Linked DNA regions of Homo sapiens: region 2 is linked to region 1. The links come from fine-mapping of genetic effects on gene expression. Tissue or cell type: testis. Region 1 holds a variant in brackets; the other region holds the start of a gene. All regions are shown on one strand. Distances are from middle to middle.

The links. PIP is the estimated chance that this variant, and not a neighbour inherited with it, causes the effect.
Region 2: INPP5F starts here. The variant in region 1 is fine-mapped to the expression of INPP5F in testis (GTEx, PIP above 0.99).

The regions. Positions count from the first base shown.
Region 1 is chr10:119,775,655-119,783,472 of GRCh38, forward strand. It overlaps INPP5F (inositol polyphosphate-5-phosphatase F), which reads left to right. Exons shown (of 20, transcript NM_014937.4): 3 at 5,981-6,117. Among named protein-coding and RNA genes, the nearest start is that of INPP5F, 54 kb to the left of the region's middle. The variant C/T (reference allele first, on the strand shown) is at 4,447.
Region 2 is chr10:119,721,652-119,728,059 of GRCh38, forward strand. INPP5F (inositol polyphosphate-5-phosphatase F) reads left to right here and starts at 4,399. Exons shown (of 20, transcript NM_014937.4): 1 at 4,399-4,708. The coding sequence starts at 4,612. RefSeq lists enhancers at 1-595, 3,398-3,447 and a silencer at 4,058-4,827.

The DNA of each region.
Region 1 (7,818 bases):
CAGAGTCATTGGAAAAAAAAAAAGTTGAACATCATAGAAGACTGAGTCATTCATTGATAACTGTTGGGCCTAAGTGGTGGGTGGATTTGGTTTGATTATATTGCTCTCTCTACTTTTATGTATGTTTGAAGATGTCTAAAAGGGAAGTTTAAAAAAAATCCTATCGGCCAGTTGCAAGCCTGGGGCACATTATTTGAATGTTTCTTAGTTTTTCAACTATAGATTGGAAATGGAATCTGTTAGCAGGGTGTAGTGGTATTAAAAATATAGACATAAATTGCCTGGTGATACTTATAGTAGATGTTCAGTAAACATTAATTCTTAGGAATAGCATCATGAATTATACAAATTGTTAATCCTCATAGCCATTCTCTGAAGTAGGCAGCTTTATCCCAGTTTTCATATGAGAAAACTGAGAATTGGAGCAGCTAAGTATTATGCTTTGAAGTATACAAGAAGCAAATGATGGAGCTAAAATTTGAGTCCAATTTCTGACCTCAAAGTCTAGGACACTTGAAGCCTCCTTGAAAAAGGAAGGCTACTATTGACAAAGCTTTGTTTCTGTTACATTATATTTTCTCAGATTTAATCTTCATCATAACTGCAAGGCATATTGAATATCTGTAACCTTTTAAAAAGAAGCACATAGATTTTTCACATTTTTGTATATGAGTAGTTAACTCTAAAAAAATGTGTATTTATTTTAAAATATATTTGAATGTGTAAGTTGAGTTTAAGTATTGGCAATACCATGTTTTTGTGGGAAAAAAGATGCCTCTTGGTTTTCCAGGTGAGTTTGTATATGAGATAAAACCTGTGTTTGAAAGTTAAAAATTTTATATTTTTGGTACTATACCTTTAGATGGTTTATTGGAAAGATACTATATTTGATAATGTACATTGTATTTTTGTTATTGAATTTATTAAAATCATAATTTGTAATGTCGATATGAAATGAATCCAGAGCAAATCAGGGCAAGAAGATGTAAACTAGGAAGGGCCTTCCTCTGTGTGTGTGTGTGTATGTGTGTTTGTGTGTGTGTGTGTGACCCACAGAGAGAGAGAGAAAGAGAGGTCCTTGAGTCATAAAGATTTCTTGTTTATTTTTTTTTTAGAGACATAGTCTTGCTCTGTCATCCAGGCTGGAGTACAGTGATCCAGTCATAGCTCACTGCAGCCTTGAACTCCTGGGCTCAAATGATCCTCCCACCTCAGCCTCCTGAGTAGCTGAGACTACAGGCATGTACCACCATGCCCAGATAACTTGTGTATCTTTTGCAGAGATGGGGTTTCGCCATGTTGCCCAGGCTGGTTTCAAACTTCTGGGCTTAAGCGATCCACCCACCTCAGCTTCCCAGAGTGCTGGGATTTCAGGCATGAGCCACCGCACCTGGCCTCAGCTAATTTTTAAAAACAATTTTTAAAGGGCTGGTGCCTTGCTGTGTTGCCAGGCTGTTTTTGAACTCCTGGCCTTGAGTGATCCTCCCTTCTCAGCCCCCCAAAGTGCTGGGATTACAGGGATGACCCACCATGCCTGGCCCAACTCTAAATTGTTCACTGTAGGATAGAAATGGCCGGGCGCAGTGGTGCACACCTGTAATCCCAAGCAGTTTGAGAGGCCAAGTCGGGCGCATCACAAGGTCAGGAGTTCGAGACCAGCCTGGCCAATATGGTGAAATCCCGTCCCTACTAAAATAACAACAACAAAAAAACCCACAAAAATTAGCCAGGCGTGGTGGCGGGCGCCTGTAGTCCCAGCCACTTGGGAGGCTGAGACAGGAGAACTGCTTAAACCTGGGAGGCAGAGGTTGCAGTAAGCCGAGATTGCGCCACCGCACTGCAGCCTGGCAACAGCACGAGACTCTGTCTCAAAATAAATAAATAAATAAAATAATATAAGTTAGAAATTATTCCTGTGATGTTAAGAGACCTAGTGTAAAGATTTCTTTTTATTCAACAAAATTTATTGACATTGAACAGTTTATTATCTGTTATGTGCTTTTTAAGAAGATTTACATGTTAGGTTTGTTACCAAGCACCTAAAGGGTAATGTTTCACATAACACCTACAAGATGCTTGGTAATGTCCATTCATGCCTGATGAATTTCCTAGCACATGGTAGGTCTTCAGTTAATGTTTAATGATAATAGGGAAATGGCCTATAAAAGCCTTAAAACTTTGGAGTAAATTTCCACCCTACTTTATAAGGAATTATGAAATGTTTCCAAACTTCTGCATTTATGAAACGCTTAAAGCATATCTCCAAAGCACCATTTCTAAAATGAAAGTTGATCAGTACTTGGGGAATAAATGAGGGAAATGAAAATATTATATATCCTTTTTATTTTTATTATTTATTTATTTATTTTTGAGGCAGGGTCTCACTCTCTTGCCCAGGCTGGAGTTCAGTGGTGCCGTCTCGGCTCACTGCAACCTCTGCCTCCCAAGTTCAAGCAATTCTCATGCCTCAGCCTCCCGAGTAGCTGGGATTACATACGTGCACCACCATGCCCGGCTAATTTTTGTTATTTTTAGTAGAGACAGAATTTTGCCATGTTGGCCAGGCTGGTCTTGAACTCCTGGCCTCATGTGATCTGCCCTCCCTGGCCTCCCAAAGTGCTAGGATTATAGGTGTGAGCCACTGCACCCAGCCTATATATCCTTTAAAAAAATTGTTTTATATGGGAAATATATGGTGTTATTTTTCTATAATAAATTCCTGAAACACAATTTCAATAATTTTTGGTTTGGGGTCTAATTGGGGAGTACTTTTTAATGGTGTAGTCTCATAAACTGAAAAATTGATTTGCATGCTGTCTTTCATAGACTATTTTTTGTTTAATTAAAAATCTCTTGTGAGAAGTAGAAATTTGGATTGGAAAGACTGGGTGTTTGCTTCTTTCTGTCTTGTGTTTATTAAAGGTTTCTTTAGGTTGTTTTGCCATTTTCCCTCCATTCTCCTCATTATATTTAGTTCTCTGTTCAATCCTAGTGTACACACAAAGTAGTTGGAGAATTACCAACCCATACTCTTCTGAAAAATAAATTTAGTAACCAGAGTACAGTAGTGCATACGGTTCTTTTTGTCTTTATTTTTACCAAATAGTTTTCTGAAGTTAGTTCAGTTAGTTTTTTCTTCTCTATCTCCTACAGTTTAGTTCTATTCTTAATTTTTAATAGAGTTGGATTTGCAGTTTGAGGTTCTCCCACATTCTGGTTGATTTGAACTATTTATTTTAACGGATATGTGAAACATTACCGTTGTTCTAAGAGTCAGAATTCTACTCAGAGACCAGTCATTTGCCAGGGCATACTCAGAGAATTGTCATTTCCCCTTCATCTCTTTTATCCTATTCCCATCCCCCTCTTCTCTGTACCCCGTTTCCACCTACTCTGTGGAGATAACTAATCTCACTGACTTCTGGTTCTCTCCTCTTCTTGTTTTTGTACAAATGGGTGGATACATATAGTTATGCATCACTTAATGAGAAATGCATTGTTGGGCAATTTCATCTAAACATAGAAATGGTACAGTAAAAATACTGTACAAAAGATATGGTATGAAAGATAAGAATGGTACACCTGTATTGGGCATTTACTATGAATGGAACTTGCGGAACCAGAAGTTGCTCTGGATGAGTCAGTGAGTGAATGTGAAGGCCTAGGACATTATCGTACACTACTATAGACTTTATAAACATCATACATGTAGGCGACACTGACTTTAAAATCTTTTCTTTCTTTTTTAAAAATTTTTTTGGGTTTTTATTTTTATTTTTTTATGAGACGGGATCTTTCCTTGTCACCCAAGCTGGAGTGCAGTGTCATGACCATGGCTTATTGCAGCATCAACCTCCCAGGCTTAAGCGATCCTCCTACCTCAGCCTCCCGAGTAGCTGGGACTACAGGTGCGTGTCCCAACTCCTGGCTAATTCTTTAATTTTTTGTAGAAACGAGGTCTCCATATGTTACCCAGGCTGGTCTTGAAGTCCTGGGCTCAAGCAATCCTCCCACTTTGACCTCTCAAAGTGCTGCAATTACAGGCATGAATGAGCCTCCATGCCCTGCCAGAAGTTCTTTCTTCAATACTAAATTAACCTTAGCTTACTGTAACTTTTCTACTTTATAAACTTTTTAATGTTTTAAAACTTTTTGACTCTTCTGTAATAACACTTAGGTTAAAACACAAACACATTGTACAGCTGTGCAAAAATATTTTCTTTTTACCCTTATTTAACTTTTTTTATAAGTAGGAGTATACCTAAAATAATGGTAAAAAGTACAGTATAGCAAATATGTAAACCAGTAACAGTCATTTATTATTATCAAGTCTTATGTATAGATGTAATTGTATGTTGTATACTTTTCTATCACTAGCAGTGCAGTAGGTTTATACCAGAATCACACAAATGTGAAATGTGTCATGCTACATTTATGATGTCACTA[C/T]GTGATAGGAATTTTTCAGCTCCATGATAATTTTAAGGGGCCATTACTGCATATGTAGCTCATCGTTGACTGAAACATCATTATGTGGTATGTGACTGTATAGATATATATCACCTCATATTTTCTTCCTTACATGAAGGGTAGTACACTCTAGGTATTCTTTTATGCTTTGATTTAATAATATATTTTATTGGCTGGGCACGGTGGCTCATGCCTATAATCCCAGCACTTTGAGAGGCCAAGGCTGGCAGATTGCTTGAGCCCAGCAGTTTGAGACCAGCTGGGGCAACATGGCAAAACCCCATCTCTTAAAAAAAAGTACAAAAATTAGCTGGGCATGGTGGTGTATGCCTGTGTTCCCAGCTACATTAGAGGCTGAGATGGGAGGTTTGCTTGAGCCCAGGAGGCAGAGGCTGCCATGAGCTGAGATTGCACCACTGCACTTTAGCCTGGGTGACAGAGTGAGACCCAGTCTCAAACAAAACAAAACATATATTTATTATGTTATTATAACATAGCCTTATTATGTACAGTCGGCCCTGTGTATCCATTGAGTTCTGTGTCTGTGGATCTAACCAACCACACATGGAAAATTTTTGGAAAAGATGGTTGCATCTGTACTGGACATGTATAGACTTTTCTTTCTCATCATTATTGCTTAAACAATACAGTTTAAAAACTGTTTACCATAGCATTTAGATTATATCAGGTATTGTAAGCAATCTAGAGATTATTTCAAGTATATGAGAGGATGTGCATAGGTTATATACAAATACTACACCATTTTACATGAGAGACTTGAGCATCCGTGGAGTTTGGTATCCACGGGGGGTCCTGGAGCCAGTCCCCTGCAGATACCGAGGGATGGCTGTATGTTAATAATATATTCAGGTTATCTACTAAGTGCATCCAGGAATCCTTCCTTATTAATTCATAGAATACTTTTTTGTTTTTTTACAGCTGCATAGTACTCCATTGCATGGATGTGCCATAGTTTATTCAACCACTGTCCTGTATCTGGACATTAGGCTGTTTCCAGTGTTTATTGTAATTATAAAATAGGCTTCAGTGTATATACTTTGGTTGTTGAGGTGTACCCTCAGGGTAAATTCCCAAAGATGGGATCACTGGACTGATTAAAGGTAAGTGCATTTGTTGTATTGTTAGGTATTGCTAAATTTCCTTCCAGAAAAGTTGTGTTTGTCATCGGTATTCTCACCTGCACAGCTGTTTTGAGTTTTCTCACAGTCTCGCCAGCACATGTGTTGTCATTCTTGTTAATTGTTCCCAATCTGATGGGTGAGCATGGTGTCACAACTGGTTTTAATTTACATTTCTCTAATTATGAGTGAGATTGAACATCTTTTCACATGTTTAAGGGTCATTTTATGTCTTTGTGACATGTTTTACTTTAAAAGTTTATTTTGGATGCACACTTTTTTTTTTGTTATCATTGTTAGGTTATTCACCTTCAACTTGTCAGAACAGTAGCACTCTAAAAACGCCAGACTTTATTATGACTCTCCTCTTTCAGATCTTCCATGGTGGCTTATTCTAATTCGGCAGAAAGCATTGGTGGGCAAACTCCCAGGAGACCATGAGGTCTGTAAAGTTACCAAAATTGCTGTGCTCTCACTTTCTGAAATGGAACCTCAGGATCTTGAGCTAGAGGTAGGTGAAATAAAGGGAAATTATATGGAAACCTGATATAAATGTAATAGCAAATATGAGGATTTGGTTCAGTAGACCAGAAACTTACATTTTTAGAGCTGGGTAATGTTTTTAAAATAATTTAATCCTAAGATTTTCCAACTTAGTAGTGGAACTCTTGTCTCAAAATCCATGAAATCTAGTGTAGAAGACACATAAAGGCAGGGCTGCTGTGGTCGCAGTAGTGTTGGGGGAATCCCTGGGGCTCTGTCCACTTGATCTCTCCTGGGAAGCCACCTTCTGTTTCCAGGGTGCCCTAGGGCTCTGCACAGTACAGTTTGAAAACTTCTTAGGGAAAAGGAGTGAGTTAAGAAAAGGAGAGCTCTTATTATATCCTCTTTTGTCTGCATTTCTTGAAAATTTTCTAAGCATATATTACTCTATTAAAATTTACAAAGAAAGTTTTTTAAAAGGAAGACAGTCACTCATCTAATGTAATCTCTTTATTTTCCAGAGAAGAGCTCAAGTCCACAAGTAGAGTGATTTAAGGATGGAATAATGAGATTGTCTAGGGCTAGTGTTTTTTACCACAAGGTGCTGCCTCCTAGTAGAAGTAACCCATGAAAGCATTTATGTCCTGTTTGCTCTTAGTATGGGAATTAGATGCCTAGTAATTGTCATCACTCCGATTGTTTTGTTCACTATGTGATGTGCCAGGTGGGCCCTGTGTATTACATAGATGATAATATTTAGTCCCCAAGACCCCCCTATGAGGTAGACATTACTACAAATAAAGGAGGCTAGGTGGGTGGCTCCTGTCTTTGACAGGCTGAGGCTGGAGGATTGCTTGAGCTGAGGGGTTCGAGACCAGCCTGGGCAACATAGCCAGACCTTGTCTTGTGGAAAAAAAAAATTAATGAGTGAATGGATTTTAGAAAATAAAATAAAAACAAATAAAGGAGGCCTGGCAAGGGTTAAGTCACACAGCTGGCAGAGGTGGGGCCTGGATCTAGACTCAGGCTGCCTGGTCCTATATAATTCTGCTGAGCTGCCGCCCTGTTACCTGAACATCAGGTAACAGCAAAGCACACACTGCCCCACAACTCAACACATGTTTTTCCATGTAGAGTTCTTGGGGAGGAACTTTGGGGACAGGGTTAAATTGCCTTAAGAATAAGTAAAAATAAAACTATTTTTATGCTTCAAATGTCACTGGAAGTTTGACAATTGAATTTTAAGAAACAAAATGAATTTAAGTGGACTCTGATATTAATTATTTGTTACAGGAATCGAAAAAAGTTTGGAGTTCTTAATTCTCCTTTTATTGGTACTTATGCTAGAACACTATTCACTATTGCTGATCGAGAGACAAAAAACCTAGGTGGCAATTAGGCCTATTAAAAGCAGATGTTTGCAGTTTTTGTCTGCATTTTTTTTGGGTGAAGAGCAGCCAGACTAGCAAAAATTTTGTTAGTTTCCTAAGCCAGTAAATTTGCTGGCAGTGTCTTTTGGATGGTTTTGCTGACACACTGAAAGATCAGGATGGCTTGTTATCACAGACCTTTCCCTTGAGGGTGGGCACCCCTTTGGCCTGGCATTCAGGTTTGAGCACTAAGACTGGGGTCTCTGGCAGTTTGATTTAGAGATGGGAACCAGCCCGCCCAGCACTTTATCCATCTGCCAGTCATGATTTGCATATTTGGCACTCCCAGTTCTTCGGAA
Region 2 (6,408 bases), 55 kb before region 1:
AATGGTGCCCAGGCTGGAGTGCAGTGGCATGATCTCGGCTCGCTACAACCTCCACCTCCCAGCCGCCTGCCTTGGCCTCCCAAAGTGCTGAGATTGCAGCCTCTGCCCGGCCGCCACCCCGTCTGGGAAGCGAGGAGTGTCTCTGCCTGGCCGCCCATCGTCTGGGATGTGAGGAGCCCCTCTGCCTGGCTGCCCAGTCTGGAAAGTGAGGGGCGTCTCCGCCCGGCCGCCATCCCATCTAGGAAGTGAGGAGCGCCTCTTCCCAGCCGCCATCACATCTGGGAAGTGAGGAGCGTCTCTGCCCGGCCGCCCATCGTCTGAGATGTGGGGAGCGCCTCTGCCCCGCCGCCCCATCTGGGATGTGAGGAGCGCCTCTGCCCAGCCGCGACCCTGTCTGGGAGGTGAGGAGCGTCTCTGCCCGGCCGCCCCGTCTGAGAAGTGAGGAGACCCTCTGCCTGGCAACCACCCCATCTGAGAAGTGAGGAGCCCCTCCACCGGGCAGCTGCCCCGTCTGAGAAGTGAGGAGCCTCTCCGCCCGGCAGCCACCCCATCTGGGAAGTGAGGAGCGTCTCCGCCCGGCAGCCACCCCGTCCGGGAGGGAGGTGGGGGGGGTCAGCCCCCCGCCCGGCCAGCCGCCCCTTCCGGGAGGGAGGTGGGGGGTCAGCCCCCCGCCCGGCCAGCCGCCCCGTCCGGGAGGGAGGTGGGGGGGTCAGCCCCCCGCCCGGCCAGCCGCCCCGTCGGGGAGGGAGGTGGGGGGATCAGGCCCCTGCCCGGCCAGCCGCCCCGTCCGGGAGGGAGGTGGGGGGGTCAGCCCCCTGCCCGGCCAGCCGCCCCGTCTGGGAGGTGAGGAGCGCCTCTGCCCGGCCGCCCCTACTGGGAAGTGAGGAGCCCCTCTGCCCGGCCACCACCCCGTCTGGGAGGTGTGCCCAACAGCTCATTGAGAACGGGCCAGGATGACAATGGCGGCTTTGTGGAATAGAAGGCGGGAAAGGTGGGGAAAAGATTGAGAAATCGGATGGTTGCCGTGTCTGTGTAGAAAGAAGTAGACATGGGAGACTTTTCATTTTGTTCTGCACTAAGAAAAATTCTTCTGCCTTGGGATCCTGTTGATCTGTGACCTTACCCCCAACCCTGTGCTCTCTGAAACATGTGCTGTGTCCACTCAGGGTTAAATGGATTAAGGGCGGTGCAAGATGTGCTTTGTTAAACAGATGCTTGAAGGCAGCATGCTCGTTAAGAGTCATCACCACTCCCTAATCTCAAGTAATCAGGGACACAAACACTGCGGAAGGCCGCAGGGTCCTCTGCCTAGGAAAACCAGAGACCTTTGTTCACTTGTTTATCTGCTGACCTTCCCTCCACTATTGTCCCATGACCCTGCCAAATCCCCCTCTGTGAGAAACACCCAAGAATTATCAATAAAAAAAAAATTAAAAAACAAAAAACAAAAAACAAAGTTAAGCCACCTGGACTGCTGACCTGCAACATTAGCAGCCTCCAGGCAGGCTGGGGGAGGGGGGAATATATTTATATAAATATAAATCTCTTCTTTTGGGAGATTTCTCATAGACAAGACTGAAGAAAGTTATCACAGACAACAAACAAGACTATGGACAAGTAGACAGAAGACAGGAGATGATGTTAAAGTCAAATCTCACCAGAGGATACCAAAATCTAATCCAAAGATCTCAGAGATATTGAAGGGCTAAATCGATAATCACAGTTGGCTTATTTACCATCATTTGTGTAGGTTTAACTACGTGGACACATTTCCTCACATTGATTTCAGCACTGGAAGGGAACACTTAGTGATCATCTCTTTTCATAAATAAGGACCCTGAGATCAAAAGAGATTGAGTGAACTGACCAAAATCACACAGAACTGGCTAGAACCAAACTCCTTAGTGATTATACTTAAATTAGCATATATATGCCATACACGTAAAAGAAGATATATAATATGTATGATGGTCATCTGTGTTTAAAAAGGAGAGCAGCATCACGTGAACTTTCCATTAAAACCTGGGTGGCATCGGGGCAGGAGGACCTTGAATTAGGAAGCTGGAAGAGGGTGATGAGGCTGGCAAGTTAGCCACAGGCCGAGGATAGGCTAGCCAGGGAGTGGAGAGGCTGCAGTGGCCAAGGTTCAGGAAGTTCATAGCAGAAACAAGGCAAGGCAACTGTGGCAGTAGATTGGGGATGTGACATCTACCAGGGACAGAAAATATGTGCTCTTTTCACTCTGCTCAGCCAGGCTAGAGCTGTGCCTACCCCACAGCATGTGTTTGGAGCCTGAGGGAGACAGCAGTGTGCATTGGGGTCAGATAATTACAGAAGCATCTCCCCTCCATGTTTTCCTCTCTCCTAAAGACTTTGCTTGTTAACTCTGCATTTACAGGTAACCAAGCCCATATGATGGCATTAGTTAATGACTGACTGCTGTTTTTTTCCAAGCTGCTGTCAGGCAGATTTTACTAATTAATTTCACTTAAAATAGTGGTGTTCAAGCCTGACTGCATAGTAAAGTCATCTGGGGAGCTTAGAAAAAATAAACAAACTGATGCCAGAGCCCCACCCCAATTAAATTCTGATTTAATTGGTCTAAGGTCCAAGCATTGATATGTTTGAAAAATTCCCCAGGTGATTCTAATAGGCAGCCAGGGTTGGAACCATGGATCTAAAACATCAGGAAAAGTTTCAATGAACTAATTAATTGTTTTAAAACAGTTACAACAGCATTGTTTTCTTCACATCTGGCAATGTAATTCATAAAACAATAATGAAATAATTTGCAGGATACAATGTCTTCATAGGATTTTCTCATTCTCATTTTTGCTAAGTCAACACATGGCTGAATTAAACAATCAATCTGAAACCGATGGTTCCACTGAAGCTTCTTATAGCTTCATTACCTTCTTTCTCCAAATCACATCACAAAGATTTGATAGAGTAACCACCTCCCTCGACCTTTATGTTGAGGTGTCTGGACAGCACAGAGGCATGGTACTTAGAAAAGATTCCAGGACGCTTTGTTATCATTGGACTTTCTGTGCTATGGAAATTCAACACTGTGGGCTGGAATAACTAGTCATGTGGAACTCCTTCCTGCTTTTGTACCCTCTCACTTTTACTTGAGCAGAAGGTTAAAAGTATTGCTTTCTGAGAAGTCCCATTCGGTCACTCCTCTCTCTCGCAAGAGAGACAGCTGTTCTCCCTTTTCTTTTGCCTATAAACTTCCGCTCCTAAACTAAAAAAAAAAAAAAAAAAAGTATTGCCTTATTTTTCTCATCTCCTACTTCTTGTCTTTTTCTCTTGTTTCCGATTCAGGCATTAGAGAAGGCAAGGAGTTAGGAGTAGGAAGACTCAATGATTTATAGAACTGGGGGTGTCATAAAAGGTCATTAGTTCAACCACCATCTGAGACCAAGAGACTTCCCCAAGATCACACAGCTAGATAGTCCTCGAACTGGCCCCGGAAGTGGGGGCCTCATTCTCCAGACCCATTCTGTTCAGGATATCAACTGGTTTTTCAAGACAGACTGAGCTCAAGGATGTTTGGGGGAGACTCCTCCTTCCCCGAGAGGGTCTCCATTCATCTTATCCTCGCCAAACGATATTCCTTCCGCTTGCTTCATTAACTGGCTCCATTTGTGAAGTCTTCTCCAAACCGCCCTGCTTAATTCGGGACACAGCAGCACCTGTACATTCCTCCCTTCCTCCTCGCTCTTTAGCCGCGTGCTGCTAATGCTTGTGTGTTTTCTATTGTTACATGCTTTCCCTCGTTGATGTGCATTTATTGAATGCCTCCTGTTGTCAAACTTCTAATAGGGAATACGAAAACAGAAGACGCCTCCGCTTGGCTGTGGGCCTGGCTGGGGATGAACCCCTGTAGCCAGGCCCCGGGGTCTCGCCTGGTTTCGGTACGGGCAGGCAGCGCAGGCCCGCGGGGAACGTACCCCGCACCGCTCCGGGAGAGCGGGTGTGGGGTTGGATTCAGGTCTCGGCCTGGCGAAGCGTGAGCGCCTCCCTGCACGGAGGGGAGGCCCCAGCGGTGGGCGCCTGTCCCCAAGGCCGCGCGGAGGGAGGCGGTCAGTCCAGACCGACTCGGCCGAGCTCCCGAGCTGCCACCGGTGACCACGACAGGAAGGCTGGCGCGCCGGGGGAGGGGCCTGGGCAAGAGCGGGAGGGGCGGGCGGAAGGACGAGAGGGAGGAGGAAAGACCCGCGGGGAGGAGCTGGGAGGAGACACCCGGGAGAAGGCGGAGGAAAGGGCAGGAAGCGGGAGGGAGCTGAAAGGAGGAGGAGGCTGAGGGGCGGAGCCGGGCGCTCGGGGAGAGTAGCCAGCAGAGGGGGTGGAGCCGGGCCTGGGGCGGAGCCAGGGAAGGGGAGGAGCGGGGGGGAGAGGCCTCTACGGCCGCCGCTGCCGCCGCCGCTGCCGGGGCGCGTTCTCCTCCTACCGGTCGGGTGCCCCGGGGCGTTCCCTCTGCCGCTGCTTCTCGGCGCGGTTCCTACCCGGCCGCTCCCCGAGGCGCGGGCTCTGGCGGCCTCGACCGACTAGGACGCCCCGTGCGCCGCCCGCGGGCCGCCGCCTCCCTGGGCGCGCGGGGCCAGCATGGAGCTCTTCCAAGCCAAGGACCACTACATCCTGCAGCAGGGCGAGCGCGCGCTGTGGTGCAGCCGCCGCGACGGCGGCCTCCAGCTCCGACCCGGTGAGGCTGGCGGTGCGGGCGGGGGGCACCCCGGGCCAGGGCGGGGAGAGGAGGGGGCGCGGCCGGACCCCTCAGCCGGGCGGGAGGAGCCGCCTGCGGGCCTGGTGAGGCGGGGCGGGGCGGGCTGCGAGCGCGCGAGCTGTCATTATTCCCTGACTGGAAGGAGCCTGGCCTTTCTCCGAGACAGCGCCGAGCCCCTACCCCAGTGCGGAGCAGAAGGGGCTGGCGACCCTCGTCCTTCCCACCGCGTCACGCGGCCGCCCTTGGGGCTTGGGGCCCAGGCCGAGGGGAGGGGGTCCCCTCCGGCAGAAAGTTCCAGCAAGGTGCACCTGGCCGTAAAGGCCTCTTCCTCCTTGGAGTAGTTCTTACATGGCCTTCGCCAGAAGTTCTGGGTTCGAATTCCGATCTGGAGCGGTTGCGCCAGTTCCGTCTAGGGCTCTGCTGGACACTCACTCCCTGTTGCCATCCCGTGTGTTCTTGGTCCCTTATTATTAAAGGTGTGACTTTACTGTGGTTACCTCATAGGCACTCGGTTTAAAGCCTTTGTCTTTGACTTTAATACCACAGCACAATTAAATTGTATTGTAATGTATAATTTTGAGATTTTTGTGTGACTTGATGTTGTGCGACACAAAATGTATTGTGGGTCCATGTTTGGGTGTCATGTAAGCTGTTCGGAGAGGCTTAAGTCTGCAATTAGCTTGCTTTAGGAAAATGTGTGTGCAGTCGTGGTTTAAACAGAGCAGTCCCTGCCCTCAGAGCGCTGACAGTCCAGTTTCTTGTAAGATGGGGCTGGGTGGCACCTGCCCCTTTTGGCTTGCTAATCCTTTCCTCATATCACTCAGAGATTCTTCCACTTTAGGGAAAGCGAGAGGATAGAGTTCTTTAAGGAAGGAGCCAGAGCTTTTCAGACTTACTTGTAATTCTTATGTGCAGTCTAGACAGAAGGATTACATGATATGAATTGAAAAGGATAAAAGGTTCAGATGAGCTTTTCAGATCACAGCGTGGTATCACTTATAGGATGGTTTTTAAGGACAGGCCCTTTAACATATTATTTCCAATCCCCACAGCAACCTTACAGGACACGTGTGGGATCCTCTTTTTCAGGTGAGGAGAAAGGAGTGAGAGGTTATTAGTAACTCGTTCGGGGTCACAGCCTAGAGTTGAGACACTGACACAGGGCAGTTCTGTGACCTCCAGAACACTTTTGGGCAGGCCCCACTGCTTTCTTAGGAAGGCCTACTAGTTGCTTTGCCAGAGCAGTGAAGGATAACTTATTTTTTTCCTCAGGCTCTGTCTATATTTTCTTGCTATTACGTTGTATTTCCTCTTTTCAGAATGGAGGATAAACTCCTTGGCCCAGATAAAGTTCTTGATGATCTCGGGATAGAGTTATTATGGATAGGCTAATTTTGGCCAGTCTTCTGTCATTCTCTTCTCTGATTTGACCATTTGTCTGGCTTTCTCCCCTTCCCTCCTTTCACTCCCCCAAATTTGGGTAAGGCTTCAGTACAGCTTGAAGTAAAGCAGATTTCAAAATTCCTAGGTTGTCAAAAGAGTCAACTCCTTGGATTCTAAAAGCTTAGACTATTAGAACTGGATGGGACTTAAGATCGTCTCCAACTCATCTGACAACAAACTTTTCTACACCCCAGTTTCTTGAACTATAAAGGCTAACCTGCGCCTAGATTCTTGGA